Regions from separate parts of the Homo sapiens genome. Here regions 1, 2, 3 and 5 are each linked to region 4. The links come from fine-mapping of genetic effects on gene expression. A gene starts in region 4. Each other region holds a variant in brackets. All regions are shown on one strand. Distances are from middle to middle.

Evidence for each region. PIP is the estimated chance that this variant, and not a neighbour inherited with it, causes the effect.
Region 1: its variant is fine-mapped to the expression of HSPBAP1 in lung (TOPMed, PIP 0.96).
Region 2: its variant is fine-mapped to the expression of HSPBAP1 in whole blood (INTERVAL, PIP above 0.99).
Region 3: its variant is fine-mapped to the expression of HSPBAP1 in thyroid (GTEx, PIP above 0.99).
Region 5: its variant is fine-mapped to the expression of HSPBAP1 in whole blood (INTERVAL, PIP above 0.99).

The regions. Positions count from the first base shown.
Region 1 is chr3:122,751,481-122,755,599 of GRCh38, reverse strand. HSPBAP1 (HSPB1 associated protein 1) reads left to right here. Exons shown (of 8, transcript NM_024610.6): 5 at 169-340; 6 at 2,926-3,009. Among named protein-coding and RNA genes, the nearest start is that of HSPBAP1, 40 kb to the left of the region's middle. The variant TTCCA/A (reference allele first, on the strand shown) is at 2,399.
Region 2 is chr3:122,702,815-122,706,933 of GRCh38, reverse strand. PARP14 (poly(ADP-ribose) polymerase family member 14) reads right to left here. Exons shown (of 17, transcript NM_017554.3): 7 at 2,956-3,192; 8 at 2,186-2,407. Among named protein-coding and RNA genes, the nearest start is that of PARP14, 24 kb to the right of the region's middle. The variant G/T (reference allele first, on the strand shown) is at 1,844.
Region 3 is chr3:122,682,628-122,686,746 of GRCh38, reverse strand. It overlaps PARP14 (poly(ADP-ribose) polymerase family member 14), which reads right to left. Exons shown (of 17, transcript NM_017554.3): 2 at 1,429-1,562. Among named protein-coding and RNA genes, the nearest start is that of PARP14, 3.8 kb to the right of the region's middle. RefSeq lists enhancers at 3,495-3,684, 3,705-3,784. The variant G/A (reference allele first, on the strand shown) is at 2,114.
Region 4 is chr3:122,792,197-122,796,315 of GRCh38, reverse strand. HSPBAP1 (HSPB1 associated protein 1) reads left to right here and starts at 2,485. Exons shown (of 8, transcript NM_024610.6): 1 at 2,485-2,699. The coding sequence starts at 2,636. It overlaps SLC49A4 (solute carrier family 49 member 4), which reads right to left and starts at 1,247. Exons shown (of 9, transcript NM_032839.3): 1 at 781-1,247. The coding sequence starts at 1,123. RefSeq lists a silencer at 921-1,410.
Region 5 is chr3:122,885,176-122,889,294 of GRCh38, reverse strand. It overlaps LINC02035 (long intergenic non-protein coding RNA 2035), which reads right to left and starts at 2,782. Exons shown (of 1, transcript NR_024618.1): 1 at 1-2,782. The variant C/TC (reference allele first, on the strand shown) is at 1,717.

The DNA of each region.
Region 1 (4,119 bases), 41 kb after region 4:
GATTCTAGCGCTGAGTCAGAGATGGACAGGTGACCACTGATGGTGCCTATATTCCCTTAGGGATTGAATTTAAACAAGTAAAAATGAACACTTAGCTTTTGTCTTCTTCCATGTTTTGTCTTAAGGTCAGAGTACTAACTTGTATCTTTTTTTTTTTTTTTTAATTAGGAAACGATGGCATCTCTTTCCTCCTGAAGATACTCCTTTCCTTTATCCAACTAGAATCCCTTATGAAGAATCTAGTGTGTTCAGTAAAATCAATGTTGTCAATCCTGATTTAAAGCGTTTTCCTCAGTTCCGGAAAGCTCAAAGACATGCGGTTACACTGAGCCCAGGACAGGTAATAGGGCTTTAAAACATTAATGACCTGCCAGGGGACACCACAGCTGTAACTCTCTCAAGTCCTTATGCTGTGTGCTTCCCCTCCCTGCGCAGTGCAAATGAGAATGGCTTCCTTCCCTCTGCTCTGCTGTTGGAAGGTAGCTTCCCCAGTTGTAGGCTTCAGACACATACACCTCTGCTTCACAGGTCCTGGAAAGGAAATGGCAAGAGGGAACACAGCTCCTCCTATTGGTAAAGAGGAGAATGGACTTTGGAGGAAGACAGTCTACAAGAGTCATTTTCATTTAGGTCAGGAGAAAATGTTCAAGGCATGGGTACTCGAGCATCTCTGGAACATTTAATCACAGTTAGTATCTGTTCAATTATGATAGCACTGAACCCAGACACATAAACACAGGTCGGAATGCCTCCAGGTGTGGGCCAACGGGCAGAAGGAACCGAGAATGTTTGCTTTTAAGCAAAAATGGATGTTGTTTTCATAAATTACTAACTCTGAAACATTTCCAAAGGTACTGTACATAGTGCTGCTTCCCAGTGAGGAAAATTTCCTTTTCAACATTGGCACTTGCTGTCTGATATTTCATTAATAATTTGAAAGGTTTTCTTAGTCACTTAAGAAGATTTTATTCTCTCGATTATCCCTCTCCCTTGCCTGTCTTCCATCCATTGTACCGGTCTCACTGGCTCTTTTCCTGCTTCCTTCACTCAAGTACTATCAACTCAAACAATTTCACTTGACTGAGTTGCCTCGACCTGTTAGTCACTCTGCATTCCCCTCTCCCCACAGCCCCTGACAACAACTAATCTTTTTCTATCTCTAGATTTGCCCATTCTGGACATTTCACACAGTGCAATATTATAATACAGGGCCTTCTGTGTCTGACTTCTTTCACATAGCATAATGTATTCAAGGGTCATCCACGTCATAGAATGTTACTAGCACTTCATTTCTTTTTTATGGCTGAATAATATTCCATTGTATGGATATACAACATTTTGTTTATCTGTTCATCAGTTGATGGACATTTGGGTTGTTTCTGCTTTGTTGGCTATTATAAGTAATGCTACTTTGAACATTCATGTACAAGTTTTGTGTGTACATATGTTTTCAATACTCTTGGGTATACCTAGGAGTAGAATTGCTGGGTTATATGGTAACCCTGTGTTTAACTTTTTGAGGAGTTGTCAAACTATTTTCCATAGCAGCTGTACTATTTTGCATTCCCACCAGCATTGTATGAGGGTTCCAATTTCTTTTTATCTTTCCCAACACTTGTTTTGCTTTTTTATCATTATTTTTACAGCCATTCCAGAGAGTGTGAAGTGGTTGCCAATTCATTTTCTCTTCTGTGTTTAATAGCCAAATTTGAGTGATTGGTTTTGCCTATTGTATCAGTTTTCCTTACATCCTATCCATTCTTTAATCCACTCAAACCCAGCTCTTTCTGTCACCACTTTACTGAAACTTTACTCTGATAGGACATGCATAACCTACTAATGACTATCAAGTGGCCTTTTATAGTTTCCAGTTTTCCTGAAAGGATCTCTCTTTCTATTTCCCAGTCCTGCCTTGTTCACAGCAAATACCAGTAGTTTCCTAATGTGAAGCCCAAAAGCTTCACATCATTTCCATCTACTCTGCTCTTAATAGGAAATCTCATACTGAGTCTGGATAGATGCCATCCTTCTTGACTCTGCCCATTGCTTTTGTTTATTATACCTTCCTATTTATATCTTAACGTTTAATAAGTGGACCTTTGCAAGTATCTCCTGTCCTTCTCAGACTCTCTCGATACCACTATTTTAACCATCCCCCTACTTAGAATTTCTCAACAACTCCTAGTGCCTACCAGATAAAATCTAGATTCTGAAGTCCGCTGTCCCTAAACTAATTCCCCTACCTTATCTCCCATTATTCCCTCTGTGATAGTAAGACTGACCTACTTGCTATCTTCTGTAGTCCTACCTCCCTCACCTGTACCTCTTATCCTTCCTGGCATGTCCTCATTCTTTCTGTGTCTAAATTCTCTCCTAGCCCGGGTTCAAATCACACTTC[TTCCA/A]TCCATGTTGCCCCTGACCTCCCTAGTTCATGCCTGTTTCACCCACCTCTGAAATTCTGAAACACCATTGTCCCCTGATTTACCACTTCTATAATGCCACCTTTCTATACTTTATCTTCTCATTGGCTAGATTTTGAGCTGTGAGAAAACAGAAGCCACGTCCTATGTGTTTTACCTATGCCCTTTCTCAGAATGCACGCAACTATTTTGTGACGGAAAGGAGGAAAAATTAGAATCTCAGAATCATGTACTAAGATTTAGGTGCAGACAAAGAAGGCCCAGGATTAAAGAGAATAGAGATGCTGGCAGTATCCTTTGTAGAACATGTGAACTTGTCAATAAAAAAGGAATAAAAGGAAAAAAGGTTTGCGGGGTTTTTTTTCTTACTTTACTTTTCTCCAGCAATATTATTGTGAATTCATTTGTATTCCTTTTTTTCCTAGCAGCCTCAATTAGGGTCTGATTCTGACATAAAAATGAAACGTCCTGTTCTTGTGCTAACCATTCTTTGTTTGGTTTTCAGGTTCTCTTTGTTCCCAGACACTGGTGGCATTACGTAGAATCCATTGATCCTGTCACTGTCAGTATAAACTCATGGATTGAACTGGTACTTTTTCGTTGTTTTTTTTTTTTTTTTAAGTAAGTGCAAATCATGCTTTTAAAAGATATATAAGGTCTGGCTGTACAACTGGGTAATTAATTTTTTTTAACCAATGCTTCAGTATTTTTTTGTTGCAGTGCACTATAACGTATGCATTCTGTCTTCTGTTAATGGATGTTTAGGTTGGAAATTGGAATTTTAGTGGTGTGCCACTCTCTTTCTTTTAAGGACACAGAATGCGCCTGATGCTGGCATGCAGGGTCCTTTCCCTTGACCAGTGTTGTTAGGAAAATTGTATTGGGCCTGGCCAGATTTGCCGATATGTGTCCCTTGTTGCCGCTCCTCTTTCACACCATCTGGGCTGGAAATACCTGCTTCTTGGTTCAGGGTCATTACTAATTGCAGAATTCTGTCTTGGCTTCTACATATTCTCAAAGCGGAGTCTTTCTTTCAGTGCTAGGTTTTTATCATTTCATTTCTGCCAGAAGCCTTTCCCTCTGATGTGTTAAGCTTAATCCTGGTTGCCTGCTCTATTTGACAATTAGAATAGCTGCTTGTTATGCTCAAGTCTGTCTCTTCAACTGGGGCCTTAATTGCAGCTGCCTCTCTTTAACCAGAGGCCCTGACTGCATCTCTGCTCTCCTTGACCTGAAGCCTGGATTGCATCTTTCTGCTCTGTTTGACAGCCGTATCCTCTCCCTAGTCTAGTTTTTCCTATCCTTTGCTAATAGGAATGGCTTTGGAATCAGTGGAACAGAAGGAATATTGTTACAGAAAGCTATGTTGTGTGGGCTTAGTGAAGAGTTGTAGCCCTTGAGGCTTAAGTGAGAGGTATGGCAGGAGATCAGTAGCGTCACAGAAATTTCGCCTATAGCATGCTGAACTGGAGTTGCAGCAGATGTCAAGGTAGAATCCATGGAGAACTTCCACTCCCAATGCCAAAGTCATATCTACAATAGCCCTGACAGGTGCTTCACCTCCCAAGGAAGTTCGCTTGTTGTTAAAGAGTAGAGCTGTCATCTTTTTAAAATATTTGAAAATACCTCCAAGTTTTTCCATAATCTTTTCTTCTTCCATGCTCAAAACCTCTTACTTTCTTTAATGGGGTGTTTTTAT
Region 2 (4,119 bases), 89 kb after region 4:
TAATTTCCTATTTGTACCAAAAGAGGAGGGGCTGAGGAGTCATGATTTTTGGAGCAAGTAGCTGGTGTATGTATTCTAGTGTTAATAAACCTGTGAATTTCATTTTTTTTTTTTTTGCCTGTTGGTGACCCTCCATAATCATCATTTTCTTCCTCCTTGTAAACAAGCAACAGATAATTTTGTTGGAAAAAAAACAAGTAACATCTTGGCTAAAGATAGATGCAATAATGGGAGAAGGAACCAGAGAGAGGGTAGAGCAAAGATCTCAGACTCACAGGCTTCTAGGAGCCAGGTAGGTAAGGCACATGTGTAAAGGTGGTCTGATTTGACTATGGAGAACTAGAGAACACCTGCCACTCAGCCATGGAAAACTTCCTGTCCCAAGCAGGAAGCCATGTTTAATGTGCCAGAAGTTTTGAAGTTTTAGGTTGTAGTGAATATCTAGAGTTTTATGTAAAATTTTTGATTTTTAAATGTTAGCAACTGATTGAAATTTTTTTTTAATAATCTAAATAAAGCACATCTAGAGGCCATGTTCAAATCACAGGACTGCTGCTTTGCATCCTCTGTGACAGTCTCCATCTATAAACATCTCGATAAGCTTTGCTGATTTTTTTGTGCAAATGTAACCAAAGTTTAACTGTCTTTAAAAGTCTAAAGAGAAAAAGTGTAACAGACACATACAGAGAATTTCAAATGGTACTAAAGGCATCTGTATAGACTAATTCTTTTTACAGAGTATTTGAAAAATACTCAGTCTTCAGGAAAGAAAATGAATGCTGAGGTTGCATGAAAAAGAGTGATATTTGAAGGTTCAGGTCTGTGTCACAGGACTCATGCTGTATTCAATCACCCATGCATTCAAAAACAGCACTTCATGCCTCTCATTTAGTTCATTTTGTGTATATAAATCTTAGCTCCAAAGTAATTGTGATTTATAGGAGGGAAAGTATGTGCTATTCCTATTCGTCCTGTTCCACGATCCACATCACCTTGCACAATGCAAGTCATAGGGAAATTATTTTAAAAGCTTCTGTTGCACAGAAGAGTAACTAATTATACGGGACAAGTAAATGGACCACATATTTTACTCAGGTGGTTTGGCTGCCTGATCAGAATTCAGGTCAGATTTACTTGCTTCCAAAGAACTTATAGGTAGTATCTAGCATCACAGAAAAATGAAGCATTACCTAAAAATTCAGATGGTCCAATGATCCACAGGTATCTCTTGGGTTGCTGATCTTAATCTGTTTGATCAATTTTTGCAGTACCTTGGGAGCTTTTCAAACACTGAATGTCATCTACTTTATTTGATTAAGTAAAGACTCGGAGTGCAGGGATAATGGCTTAAAAGCCTGTTGTGCTGCCATAATGCTGAGTCCAGTGGCTCTCCCACAGCTGATGTGAGCTGAATCATGAACTCATGATTGATGATAGTTCTGGTGTTTCTGGTCCCAACTCTCCTATTTACATGGGAATGTGCTAATCCATTCTAACCACACCTTCTGACATCTTCCTATTGATAAGGCCAGACTGTGCTTTTATACTATGTATTAAAATTTCTATGTCCATATGGAGGGAAATCCTATAGTCAACTCCATTGCAATATGTGGGCCTTATTTGGATTCTGATTCAAACACAAAGCTGTAAAAACAAAACGTTTATGAGATAGTCAGAAATTTGAGAATTGATTTGATAATTGGTTAAAGGAATTATTGTCCATTTATTTTAGGTGTGATACAATATTGTGGTTATGTTACTTTTTTAAAAAGAATTGTTATTGTTTAAAATAAATGTTGAATTGTTTATGGATAAAATGATATGTCTGAGATTTGCTTCAAAA[G/T]AATATAGAAGGAAGGGAAATAGATGAAGATAGAGATGAAACATATTGGCCATAGGTTGATAACTGTTGAAGTTCAGTGATAGGTACAAGGGACTGCATTATACTATTATGTCTACTTTTGGATATGTTCAAAATTTTCCTGAATAGGAAGTTAAATTTTTTCTACATCTGTAACTTTTCTTAAAATTTGTCATGCTACAACTACAACTACAAGTATAAACTACCTTCTTACTTTCCTGAATGGGGAAATGAATGAAAAAAGTATCCTGTTAGACCAAAAAGACATTTGAAAAAACACTAGGTCTCAGTTGCCAAAATAATCAGAAATTAGTGGCACTGTACCTGAATATTTTCATGATCACTCGGGTGCAGCAGAAAGTGAACCTCTTGTAAAGTTTTCAGCTGATTCTTGCTACTAAATTTGAACACCTCTGAAATGATTAATTCAGCGAATATGTTTTTAGGAAATCCCAAGTTTCCTGTTCCTATTGCTGGAAATGCAATTGATTTTAAGGACAAGCTCTCAGTGATCTCCATACATTCTCTGATTATGTCTTCCATTATCTGAAACGCACAAAGCACATCCTTATACATCTTGTCTAGAAATGGGAGTTAGAACAAAAAGGACAAGAATTTAGCAACTTTGTGAACTTGAATACTCCTTTTTGCTGTCAACACTGATTAAGGGCAATCAGAAGAGGAAAGAAAAATACAGGAGAAGGCAAGGAAAAGGAAAAGAGAATGCGAGAGACTTAAACACATTCACAATGAAGGAAAGAAGCAAAGCAACTACTGTTCTTTTCCTTCATTCTCTTCCATTCTTCACACCCTCCTCTGGCTTTCTTCACTAAGCAAGCAATAATATTATCTTCAGTAACCCTTCCCTGAGCTCCAATAATTATTGAGCACAATAATCCATTTATAGTATTAACTAGTCCTCAGGAGAAGTCAGCTACAGCTGAAAGAAATGGCCACATGATGGAATCTGCCAAAAGAGTGATTATTATGGAAGAGAAACAGACAAGGCCCAATCTATGTCCAATTAATATGCTACTAAAAGGAGAACCCAAAGGGCTACCCAACTTCATGGAGAATTCAAAACCAGGCCCAACCTTGAGTGAAGATGTGCTACCATTTCTCCACTCCGGAGCTACCACGTGAAGCACATAGCGACAGTCCAGATTCCAGCTGCTGGTTTTGAGCACTGTGCCCATGCTGACAGCCACCCCTTGTCCAACTGTGTCCAATTCCTCCTGGAGCTCTGGTCCAGCTTTTTCCAAGAGGGACTTAGAAAGAGGCCCTCTACTAAGCACGAGATCCAAGGGAACGGAGTTGACAACAACATCGGTCTTAAAGACAAAACCAAAAATTTGTTTCAAATTTTAACAAAAAGCATTCATCAATGATTACTATATTTGAGGCACTGGGCTTGGCACAATTGGAGACAACTAAGATGACTACGGTTTCAGTGATTGAAATATCAACATAAGACAAAGTGTGACTAAATACTTATTGAAGTGACACTTAGGAAAAAAAGAGAGCAGTCAAAAAGTAATCTATGAATGGTATGGCATCACTGAAGGAGTCCAGAGAAAGCTGTTTCAGTAACTAGTGAAGATACCATGGGCAATGTGGGGTTTGAGAAATGGGAAGAATTTCAGCAGGCAGAGCAAGACAGGGAGCAGCATGAACATAGGCATGGTGGGTTGTGAGCTGTGAACAGATTAATTTGATCTGAGAGAGCTTCTGCAGCAAAATGGTATGCTCCAGGCTAGAAATGTTACACTGGGGGTAAACTAGGGGGCCCACCTCGAGTGCCAAGACATCTGGACTCCCTGACAGAAAGGGAGCAGCCCCGGAAGCTTTTTCATCAGTGAATGTGAGCAGATTAATCGGGCTAGATTAGAGAGGTCAAGAGAACAGAGGAGAGGGAATGTAACCAAGTGATTTTCAAAGCTGCCCTGCCTGGGTCACTAAGGAGTAATGCAGAGCAGTTATTACAGCCATGGAAGCTAAGCATCTATGGGAGTGAAAGGAAAGCAAACTATGACTGTTTTTTGTTTTTTGTTTTTTTTTTTTGTTTTTTTTTTTTTTTTTAAGAGAGAGGGTCTTGCTCTGTCCACCCAGGCTGGAGGGCAGTGGCATGATCATAGTTCACTGCAGCCTCAAACTCCTAGGGTTCAAGTGATCCTCCCACCTCAGCATTCCGAGTAGTAAGGACTACAGGTATGAGCCACCATGCCTAGCTGGGAAAGAATGTCTTGATATTTGGTGTC
Region 3 (4,119 bases), 110 kb after region 4:
ACCTGTAATTTCAGCATTTTGGGAGGCCAGTGTGGGAGGATCGCTTGAGGCCAGGAGTTCAAGGCCAGCCTGGGCAACATAGTGAGACCCCATCTCTACAAAAAAAAATTAGGAAAAAAAATTAGCCAGGCATAGTGATGCATGCCTGTAGTCCCAGCTACTTGGGAGGCTGAGGCAGGAGGATCACTTGAGCCCAGGAGTTCAAGATTACAGTGAGCTATGGTGGTGCCACTGCACTCCAGCCTGGGATACAGATGAAAGCAGTCTCTAAAAAAGATAAAAATTAAATTAAGGACGGGTGTGGTGGCTCACACCTGTAATCCCAGCACTTTGGGAGGCCAAGGCAAGTGGATCACATGAGCCCAGCAGTTCAAGAGCAGCCTAGGCAACATGGTAAAACCCCGACTCTACAAAAAATACAAAAAATTAGCCAGGTGTGGTGGCATGTGCCTACAGTCCCAGCTACTGGGGAGGCTGAGGTAGGAGGATCACCTAAGCCCAGGAGGTCAAGGAGGCAGCAAGCCATGATCATGCCACTGCACTCCAGCCTGGGCAACAGAGTGAGACCCTGCCTCTAAAAAAGAAATAAATAAAACAAATACAAATAAAACATTTACTGAGTGTTTATTATATATAACAAGAACTGTGTCATGTGCTTTATACAGATCATCTTGTTCAACCCTCACAATAATCCTGCAATCTGTTGTTGGATCATTAATGTTACTATTCCATTTTACAATTGGGGTAATACTTAATACAGGTAGTATGGATTGCTGTCTCCTCAAAATGACATAGAAAATAAAACAAATATAACAGGTTACAGGTTATAAAGAACTCTGGAGACACAGACCCCAAATTTTACATCCAAAACCACCATTATTATAATCCCCAAATCTTGGCTTTTCCAAATGTGTCTAAAATCACATAAAAAGTACCCCCAGCAGGGTGCGGTGGCTCATGACTGTAATCCCAGCACTTTGGGAGGCCTAGGTGGGCCGATCATGAGGTCAGGAGTTTGATACCAGCCTGGCCAATATGGTGAAACCCCGTCTCTACTAAAAATATAAAAATTATCTGGGCATAGTGGCATATGCCTGTAGTCACAGCTACTCAGGAGGCTAAGGCAGAAGAATCACTTGAACCCAGGAGGCAGAGGTTGCAGTGAGCCAAGATTATACCACTGTACTCCAGCCTGGTTGACAGAGCGAGACTCCGTCTCAAAAAAAAAAAAAAAAAGTACCCCCTCCTACTTTATCCCATACTACCCTACCCTACCACTGCCCTCACTCCCCCTACATTTGTAATCTGCTTTTCTCGCTGCAGTTTGCTTCATGCTTTTCTTTCCACTATATTTTCTTCATGGTGATTCCCATCTCACACACCTTGGGAGACCTAAATCCCTTTTATTCATGCCTAAAGTTTACTTGCTTTTGTTAGAAGTTCCTCTTCAAAGACATGATCGATTTCATCTGGGGTTGCAGGTAACTGGACAGTTAACTTGAATGTTCCTTTTCCTTGCCATACCAACTCATGATTTTTTCTCTCCAGAACCTTCTGCCGAACTGAAATGTCCAAAGGGGGGAAAAAAGACAAATGACAAGCAATCTTTATTTACAAAATTATTCTATGATTTCCGTGGGCTGCATTACCATCAATCAATGGCTTGGTCGGTTTCTCAAGAGAGGCTATATGTGAAGTAAAAGAGGAAAAGTTTAGCAAGCAAACATGGATTTGAATTTCTTCCTTAAACTGACTTTTTAATATTGAGCATGTTCCCTAATAAGCCATACTTATAAGGCCTCAGTTTTCTTGTCTATTTGTAAGGTTAATGGAGACTGTTTTGTATGAGTGCCACGTGTATTAAATTGAAGAAACATTATAAAGAACTTGGTACAGGACCTGACACTCAGGAGGTACTCAAAAGGTAGCAATATTTATTCTATATTGAAGTGAATTAAATTAAAGCATCCTTCAATGGGAGCCAGTGAAGATTGGGTACTGGGACATGCCATGATGAAAGTCACGTTTTAGGAAGGTGGCTAGGTGGCTGTAAGCAGGAGCCTAGTTAGAAACAGGTCTCACATCTGATAGTAAAAGGAGTATAAAAGAAGGG[G/A]GAGATTTTTGCAAAAAAAAAAATGAACAAATTAATAGATTAGCATATCAGGCAGCTTGGCTGTAGTGAAACAACTGAACAGTGGACATAGAGTCCAAAGATCTGGATTTGAATTCCAACTCTACCACAAATAGCTGAGTGAATACCTTAACTTCTCTCAACTCTCAGTTTCCTCACTTAAAGTGGTGTCCATGAATGCACACTGTAACATCCTCAAGAACTACGCAGATGTGAGTTACGATTATAAAAAGGAGCAGCCAGAGAGATATGAAGAAAATCAGCATATCTCAGTCCATGAAGAACGGGAAGAAGTGAGTTTCAAGGAGGAGGCATGATCAACATAGTCAGATAGTACAAAGAGGTCAGGGAAAAAAGGAGTTTTTGAGAGTGCCCTACAGGTCACAGGTGTAGCTCTAGCATGAATGTTGGGTCACTATGCTGTGTTCTGATATGGCTGGCCTGATGAGGCCAAGGATATAGATCAGAATCTTTCATGAATAGGAGCATGATAGCTTTCCCACCTCAACCCTCTGTGAAGAGGGTGGAGGAAGTGGGGTCTTAATTGGATGCCAACTCAGAAATAGGCCTCAGAAACAACCTGAGAAGGAACGCCAGCTTCTAATCTCACTCTTTATGAGGAGGGCAGATGTTTCCACACAAACTCCTGAAGGGCTTTACTAAACCAAGGTGGGGATTGAGGACTGGATAGGACCCCTGCAGCCTGACAACAAGCTAAATTTTGTAAGTCAAGTTATTTAGAGTCATGGACCTCTGTGTTACAGTCCTTTTCTTATTCCCTAGACTTTGATAAAGTCCTGTCTAGGCATCTAAATGTGCCAGTCTGTTCTCAGATTGTGGGCAATATTTATGGGCACAAGTATTTCAGGAGAACAGTTGGTAATAATATGGGTATATGATCTCCAAAAAGGAGAAAGTCAATCTGGGAGGAAAAAGCTGAAACTCTGATGTCCAACCTCCCTTACCCAAGTGGACAGTCTTCCACCTGCACCAACTTTAGATCATCAACATTTAATTTTATTTAAGGAGAAGATGGGTTCTTACCACAAGGAACCCGACAACAACCAGGAACCAAACTATGTTGGTAAAGTATGATAAAATAGACACATCTGAAACAGGGCTTAAAATGTTATGTCAATTTACACCAACTTTTCAGAAATCCAGTGAACTATATAAAAGTGAGATACAGCTTCCCATTTGTTTCTATTTGCTATACATGAATAAATACGGAGAAGTGCTGGTGGGCTCATTCTTGTTATCTGCCTATTACAGTTTATATGAATCAAATCAGGTTATGCTATGGGCCCGCACCTGTTGAGGCCACTTCCTGGCATGGAGGGTGGAGAGTGTCCTCTGCAGAAGAAGAATGCACTTCTGGGACTTCAAGCGTAGGTCATTCATTGTTAGCAAATTCCTGACCCTTGTTACTGAGAAAGTGGTTCCTCAAGTAGGAAACTGAAACTGACTAGGGATTTTCCACCCCCAAGAACTTAGACCATACTAGGTTTCGAGTTTGTTTTTGTTTGTTTGTTTCTTTTTGTTTGTTTGTTTTTGTTTTGTTTTAGATGGAGTCTTGCTCTGTTGCCAGGCTGGAGTGCAGTGGTGCGATCTCACCTCACTGCAACCTCTGCCTCCCTGGTTCAAGCAATTCCCCTGCCTCAGCCTCCTGAGTAGCTGGGACTATAGGCGCACACCACCACGCTCGGCTAATTTTTTTGTGTGTTTTAGTAGAGACAGGGTTTCACCATGTTGCTCAAGGATGGTCTCGATCTCCTCAACTCGTCATCCACCTGCCTCAGCCTCCCAAAGTGCTGGGATTAACAGGCGTGAGCCACCACGCCCGGCCGGTTTTGAGTTTTAATAAGTTTTGGGTCATCTGTGCTGGGGGGTAAGACAAGAGGGGCCACTGGAGCAGCCTGGGGGTGGAGGAAGAGGAGTAGTGGGCTGGGGCCGGTCAAGGATGGAAGCCCAGCAGGAAGACTGAAATC
Region 4 (4,119 bases):
TAATAAATATAAAATCTTGCACAACAGCCTCTTGAGGGTAGACTGTCACTACTAATCATTTATCCATACTTATGTGGTAAGTATGCCTTGATTCTCAGCCCTATGGCTTTTTCTTCTCAGAGAATCACACTGGCAAGTGGTAAAGTGAGATGTCCAGGGTACCATTCTAAGCAAGCATCTTCACTCATCTGCAAGCTTTAATTGAAAGTCACAAATCTCAACTGAGAAAGCCATCTAGTCACATACACACATTTTAAAGCTGCCGAGCACCACCTTCCAGAAACCAAAGTGTCAGATCTGAGTTTCCCAATAGCTCTTCCTGGGCTGGAGTCATCTATTACACAAAACGAACTCATTATTTCCTTACATATGGGCACCGTCAATCTATTTTCCGACCTTTCATCCTCAACATCCCCATATCCCTTTGAAGTCAAAGCATCAGTCATTTTTGTCAGGTGTAAAACACATACACCGCACGTGCACGGGGATGCTCTGATGTTCACAATGTGTAAAAACTTGAACGTTTAGAGATCGCTTAAATCCCTGGTGTTGCATAAAGGGCCTTGATAAAAAACATAAATATTTGCAAGGTTGCCTTTCCATATTTGTCGCTTTGGGGACGGAGGGTTCCTAAGTCAGAAATGGAATGCTAGCAACACTCTATCACCTCACACAACCCCTATGCCGGGGCCAAGGGAGGCGGCTGGCAGGCCTGGAGCGCGGGCAGGCGCCTGCTCCCGGAGGAGAGACAGCGCGGGCTGGCGCTCCGCGACCCCTCACCTCTCTTGTCCAGGAGCCACATGAACGCGAAGCAGGGCAGGAAGCCGATGGGCCCCCACAGCACGAGCAGCGCGATGTCCCAGCTGGAGAAGCCGTAGGCCTGGCGCGCCGAGTTCTGGATGGGACCCCAGGTGTTCCAGACCAGGCCCTGAACGAACGCCAGCAGCGAGAAGAGCAGCAGCACCAGCCAGCGGCGCCCGTATACCCGCCCGGGACCCGGGACCGCCGCGGGCAGCGCCGCCGCCGCCGCCTCCCGGCTTCTCCAGGAGGCCCCCAGCCCAGGCCCGAGCCCGGGCCCCAGCAGCGGCTGCCTCTCCTCTTCGCTGCTCCAGCGAGAGCCCATGGCGACGCGTCGCCCGCGAAGCCACTGCCGGGCGCAGTCCGGGTCACCGCCGACTAGCCCAGCGCAGAATAGTCCTGAGCAGCAGGAGGCGGAGGCTGCTGTGGTCGCCCTCGGCCTCCGGACCGCGCCTGGTGCGCCTGCGCGGCCCGAGCCGGGCCGGCGGGGAGGCGGGGAGGCGGGGCAGGCGGCAAGGAGGCTGGGGTCCGCCCTCCCCTCCGCGGGTGGCGAGGAAACACCGGCGAGAGGAAAGGAGCCAGGTCCCAGACGGAGGGCAGGTAGCGCTGAAAAGGCAGGGACCAGCGCGGCTGAGTCGGGGAGAGGGAAACTCCCAGAGAGGCTGTATTCGAGGAGGTTGGGCAAGGAACCCTGGGGTGTTTGGAGGAAGTGTCCAAGTTAAATCTTGTGCCTAATAAACAACTCAGTGACCTGTTAAGTGACGTCAGTTAACCTGATGCTTGCTTCTATTTTGGGCTTATTCTCATTTTTGTTGAGTTAGTAACTTCAGAAATTATAGGCGAAGGATAAAGTTTAAGCGTAGTTGGTCCCAGGGGATTATCTCATAAAAATCATTTCTTACGTGCAATAAGTACTACCTATTTTTGTTACTTTTTTGTCTTACATATCCAAAGAGGAGATTCCAAACTAGCCAATTTCATTCATATATATGTAAACTTTACCCATTTCGCCTGCCAATAGGCGAGCAATAAAGGTATGTCCAGTAAAGTTGGAAGATTTTTGCCCCAAAGATCCATCTCCAGTGATTATGATTTGACCACAGGGTAAACGAGAAGAAAGGTGGTTGTTGATCTCTTCACACAGCTGTTTGTTTATTTTGGTATACAAATTCAGAAGCCTGACAGCTGTGGATTAGTGTCCTTGAAAACCTAAAGTCAAGCAATTTGGCTTGTCTGGATCGGGAAATGAGTCACAGGGAACGCAATCACAGGATTCTTTGCCCGAGGTTCGTATTTCCCGGCAGCCACTAAAATCAGAAGGAGTCAGGTTACCACCAGAAGGGCAAGAGAGGTGTAAGAGAAGCGTGAGCTAGCCTCGCATTCCAGGCTGCCAAGAGCGGCTCGCGAAAGCTCACGGCAGAGACCCATCCCACCGCCGGAGCCCCACTAAGCGGCAAACCTTCCCCTAAAACTCCAATCCTTTAGGGTGGAGAAAAGCCGAGGTGGAAAGGAAGGATCTGACTAGAAAAGGAGAAACAGAAACGAAGCTAAGACTACAATAAAGAACGCTAAGGTCCGGGTTAGGTAAAAAGCGCCACAACTCAGACCACGTGTTTGTATTTCCACACCCGGGGTATCAAAACAAAGCTGCGTGGTCCCGCCCAGCATCCGTCACGTGACCTCCACGTGAGAGCCGGCGTTTCCGTAGGAGCCGGGCGGGAGTCGCCGGGGCTCCTTCCTGTGGTGCAGCTTCGGGTCTCGGAGTTTGGCCCCTACTCTGACCCCACCCCAGCTCCGCTCCGCCTTGGGTTCCGGCAGAACCCGCCTTGCGGTAGCCATGGCAGCAGGCTCCGAGGCGACCACTCCTGTGATCGTTGCGGCTGGGGCTGGAGGGGAGGAAGGTAGGTGCCAGGCTGAGGTCCGACCCTGAGTACAAACCCAATGCCAGTTGACTCTCGTGGCACCCCTCGTGGGGCCGTTTGCCTTAGCCCCAACCCAGGTCTCTCTGGCCTTGCATTAGACTATGAAGAAAAATCTATATTTTCTAGTGAGCGTGGCATTTCTCGAATTGTGGCATCCAGATTTTTGATCGTCGTAGGGTAGCCTACGAGTGCTGTTTCACGCATGGGGTGTTATTTTTGTTTTGTTTTGTTTTATATTTGCCCATCATTAGCTAAATAGAGGTGTTTTGAACGTTTAGAGGGGATTAAAATTAAATTTGTGAAATTGAAGGCAACCTTTGAGATTAATGGAAGTTATCTGAGACTTTTGTGAACAGGGATTATGCGCTTTTATTCTATTTCAGTGAACCCTGGTTTAGCAAGTGGGGATGAGGTTTGGAGGCCCATGAGCCTGAGATCCCTGTTATTATTTATTGAATGATTGCACCGTGCAGGGCTGTGTTCTGAATACTGTCGCAGGATCCAGAGACTTTTGAATATTTATAACAATACCTTTTCCAAAGGAGCCTAGAAAGGAAAAAGAATGACTTACTATGTGGTCACCTGAACTATTCTACCAGTAGTACACTCTGTGAGGGTTGTTAGGAGGAGGGATCTCAGTGGGGAGAACATAAATGCTTCAAGGAGCGAATAGTTTGAGGTCGGCCTTTCTTTTTCTTTTCTCTCTTTTTTTTTTTTTCTTTTTTTGAGACGGAGTCTCGCTCTGTCACCAGGCTGGAGTGCAGTGGCGCGATTTTGGCTCACTGCAACCTCCACCTCCCAGGTTCAAGCAATTCTTCTGCCTCAGCGTCCCAAGCAGCTGGGACTACAAGCGTGCCACCACGCCCAGCTAATTTTTGTATTTTTAGTAGAGACGGGGTTTCACCATGTTGGCCAGGATGGTCTCGCTCTCTTGACCTTGTGATCCGCTGAGGTGGGCCTTTCTGATTGGATGAGATGGTGACAAACTCAGGGAGTGGTGCTGGGGTTCAGGAAGTCAGGGAGCAGAAAAGGATGGATGTATTTAGGGGTCAAACAGTTTGCTGAAGGGGGAGATGCCCATTCCAAGCAGAAGAAACAAATTATAGCCTCCTACTATCTGACCACTTTCTACCAGGGAGACAATTCTTGACCTTCATCTATACCTCCATTGCATTGATCTTTCCATTTTCTATCCACTGCACCCCCTTATCCAGAATGTATGTCGTTCCTTTGAAAAATTCTCTTGTCCCTTCCTGCACTTTTTTCTGACAAAACTCTTACTCTGGATGAAGTCAACCTTTTGCCCTCTTTGTACCTGCACCCGTGGGCCTGAACTTTGCTGGAAAAAGTCCTGCACAAACTGATGACCGTATAAAGTGAAAATGGCCAAACTCTTGAA
Region 5 (4,119 bases), 93 kb before region 4:
AAGGAATACTGACAAAAGAGTGAAAAGGTAAGGGAATCAGCAGATGGTTCAATAGAGTAACCTTTTCCCAATTAGATGGAAGGACAATTACAGGCAACAGAATATAGCACGGAGCTTCTGTGCCTAGGTGGTCTATATTAAACTTGAGTAAAAAAAGAACAAATACAGGGACTTCTCTATTCTGAGATAGAAAAGGGTCAAACATTAGGACTAAGGTATCAATTGATTTCTTTTTCCTGAAAAGGTCAAGTGCAATTGACAAAAGAGGAGGAGGGAGGCCCAAGGTAGGGATTCTTTGGGACATGGGGCAAGGATCCTGGAGCCAAAACCCAAGGGACAGCGGAGGTATGGAGGAGAGGGATGGCTTTACTGGGGATACCTGTATTACTTACTACAATGATTTCTCAGCAATAACTCATTGATCAGGAAGAGTGAGTGCAATGCGAATTAGTGAATTCAGGGAAGGACTAAGAACCACCACCTTCAACACACACACTGAACTCTACTGAGCAGGCCCTATTCTTCCTATGGCAGGTAAGATGGGATCGACTCCCTCTCATGACTTCTTCCAGGCACTTTCTGAGTCACAGACCTAAACAGAAACAGGTAGTTATGTGTGTAGGCCAAGGAAGTGATTTTGTTTGGGACTTGTGGATGCAGTGTATTAGGATGGAGGCGGGATTTTCTTAATGCTTAATTTTCACAAGCCTCCAAAATGACATATTTCTGGTGGGGAGGGAAGTAAATTCGGAACTCGGGGCATTTGTAGTAAATGAAATAATTGGCAGGAACTAAAACCTGCCCTTTTTAGCATTCTTTGGGTTTCTGCAAAGGCTCAGGGGGCTGGGACTTCACTAGCAATACATCAAGTGTGATTAGGTTTACTCACACGTATAAACTGAAGGGTTTCTGCAGTCTCCAGCCCCCAAAGTAGCCCTGCTCTATGTGGCTACCTGATATCCCAAATTCTACCATTAGAAAGCCCCCTTTTGGTATTTAGCCTTTGTTCTTGTTAGTATTCAAATTCCCCTTAGAAAGGAGACCCACAAAGCCTTATGAGTATAAGCATCTTAGCATGTATGCATTTGTTAAATTTTGTCTTAAGAGAAGGCTGGGGTACCAACAACATTCCCAATTTCCCATAGGAGTAATAACCAATTCCTCAGCCATGGAATGATGGTAGGGTTGGGATTCCTCATGCAAAAATTAATTCTGTGCCTCCAGACAGATCCAGATCTTACTCATGAAAAGAATATCAGTGGGACAGAATGTCTTTTCCTCAAAATCAGTTATGGTTTATGATTTGAGAACAATATATGGGCTCCTGTTATGCATAATTATTTGGGAAATTGTCACTAGCTCTTTGTAATTGTTAGTTCAGGAGTGTGTTTTTTAAAAAAAAACCTTCTGACTGGGCATGGTGGCTCATGCCTGGAATCCCGGTACTTTGGGAAGCCGGCAGGAGGATCGCTTGAGGCCAGGAGTTCGAGAATGGCCTGGCCAACATGGCAAAACCCCATCTCTACTAAAAATACAAAAATTAGCTGGGTATGGTGGCGCATGTCTGTAGTCCCAGCTACTCGGGAGGATGAGGCACGAGAATCCCTTGAACCCGGGAGGCGGAGGTTGCAGTGAGCCAAGATCACACCACTGCACTCCAGCCTGGGAAACAGAGCAAGACTCTGTCTCAAAACTATCTCAAAAAAAAAAAAAAAA[C/TC]TTCATTTTTCTGATTATCTTTCACTGCCATGTAATTGTACATATATAAATTACTCTGCATACAGAATGAATAGTATACATGGATGAAGGAACGAATAGATATAACAGTCTGAAAGTTTCCCTAATGCTGGCACCTGTAACACATCACTAACAGGGCCTTGTAGAAGTTCCTTATTGGTTTGAGAAGATAATGTATAAACTGGGAGTACTGGTGGAAAAGTATTGCACTCATGTTTTCTACTTTTTGGTTGTGTGTGACCAAGGGGTATAGATCAGAGAACTGTAAAACTTTTCAGCAAAAAGAAACATCTTCTCTGACCCTCCTATTTCAGAAGTGAGGAAGCCAAAGTTCAAAGAGAACAGATGACTTGCCCAAAGCCCCATGTCTTCAGCCATGCAGAAGACAGACGCCCAGACTTCCTGACACTGAGGTTGGTCTTCTGGTTCACTTCTCTCTCTCAGAGCTATTAATATTATGCTCACATTATAGTCACGAGGAAGTCTTGTTGGCCGGACATGGGGGCTCACGCCTTTAATCCCAACTCTTTGGGAAGCTGAGGTGGGAGGATTGCTTAAGTCCAGGAGTTCAAGACCAGCTTGGGGGAACATAGTGAGACCCCTTCTCCATAAAAAATAAAAAATTAGCCAGGGGTGGTGGCATGCGCTTGTAGTCTTAGCTACGCAGGAGGCTGAGGCAGGAAGATCACTTGAGCCCAGTAGTCTGAGGATACAGTGAGCTATGATCATGCCACTGCACTCCAGCCTGGATGACAGAGACTGTCTCAAAACAAACAAACAAACAAAAAAACCCTTGTTTACTAACACTTGAGTACAGATCATTCCTTGACATGCTGAAACTTAGCTCTTATTCTGTAAAATATCTGCACAGTTTACTGGAAGAATCTGACCATGTGGAGATGGCATCATTGCAAAGCAACTTACAATTCTTTGATGCCTTAACTAAAGATGTAAGTTCAAGGATTGGCTTTACTACCTGACCTAACAGTTTTGATTTCTACAAGTGCAAACCCATGCTGCCTCATGATGAATCCAATCAAACCAAAGGACTCGTATCTCGTTTGATCTGATTCTGGTGAGCAAATGCAGTACCCCGACCTGGCTCCCAGTATGCTATCTCAACATCAGATGACAGATTTTTCTCTTATTGCATTTGATACATTTAATAAACCCTGTGTTTCATATATAAAGTCCTTTGGGAAAATAAACAGCACCTGCAGCTTATCTCCTCCCACAGACACTGAAAAAGCAATTTCTTCTTATTGAATGTGGATGCAGCATAAGATTTCATATGTTCACGTACAGGGCTCACATGAGGGGGGCTACCGCACAAATGGAAACACCAAGGTGCTGGGCACCTCTCCAGCTTTACAGACTGCACATGCTTTGGTCATGTTCATATTTAAATAAGAATCAACTGGTATTTCTGAATTAGAAGAAATCTAAGGGAACATTTTTGCTCACTCCCTCATTTTAGAGATGTTGCTAAAGGAGAAATGAAGTGACTTGCTCAAGGTCAAATAGCTGAAGTCACCAGGCCAGGGTTAAGAGCCAGACCCGTGGGCTCCTACACCAGTGCTCTTTTTCTCTGTCCTCTCTAGTAGGGTCCATGAAGAATCTGCATGCCCGGCTCTCTCCTCTCCACCGCTGGCAACTCGTAAAATCTGGGTGTCACACAGCTCGCTCCCAAGCATTGTCAGAAATAAGAAGACACCATCAGAAAGGGGAAAGCTGGATGGGCAAGAAGACAGGAAAGGAAAAAGTGACCAAATGAAGCTGAGCTTCTGGCCTGCTACAGTTCATCATTTCTACTGACAGCTTGAAAATTAGGAAAGACACAGAAGTTGACCAGGAAACAATAAGAATTATCAGAATCTCCATTAGCTATTTTTTCAAAAAACGAAATTGCACAAGCCAGGCTGGGCAACATGGTGAAACCCCATCTCTACGAAAAATATAAAAAATTAGCTGGCATGGTGGTATACACCTGTAGTCCCAGCTACTTGGGGGGCTGAGGCTGGAGGCTTGCTTGAGCCTGGAAGATTGAGGCTGCAGTGGGCTGAGATCACACCAGGGCACTCAAGCCTGAATGACAAAGTGAGACCCTGTCTAAAAAAAAAAAAAAAAATTGCACAAGATTATTCTTTTGGCTTCTGTTTTCTATAATATTGTGTGCCTCTGCAGAGACAGGGAAGCCAAGAAAGTCCTGTGGAGGAAATCTATATGGATTTCATAGGTCGGTTACTCACTTTCTTTTCTCACAGTACAGGGAGCTTAGTTGATGGTGTTAAGAACAGAAATTGTATTTCCAGTAAGAAAACACAATAGTGCATATTGGAACTCAACTCAATAATGCATATTGGAACTCACTTTTGAACTTTAGAA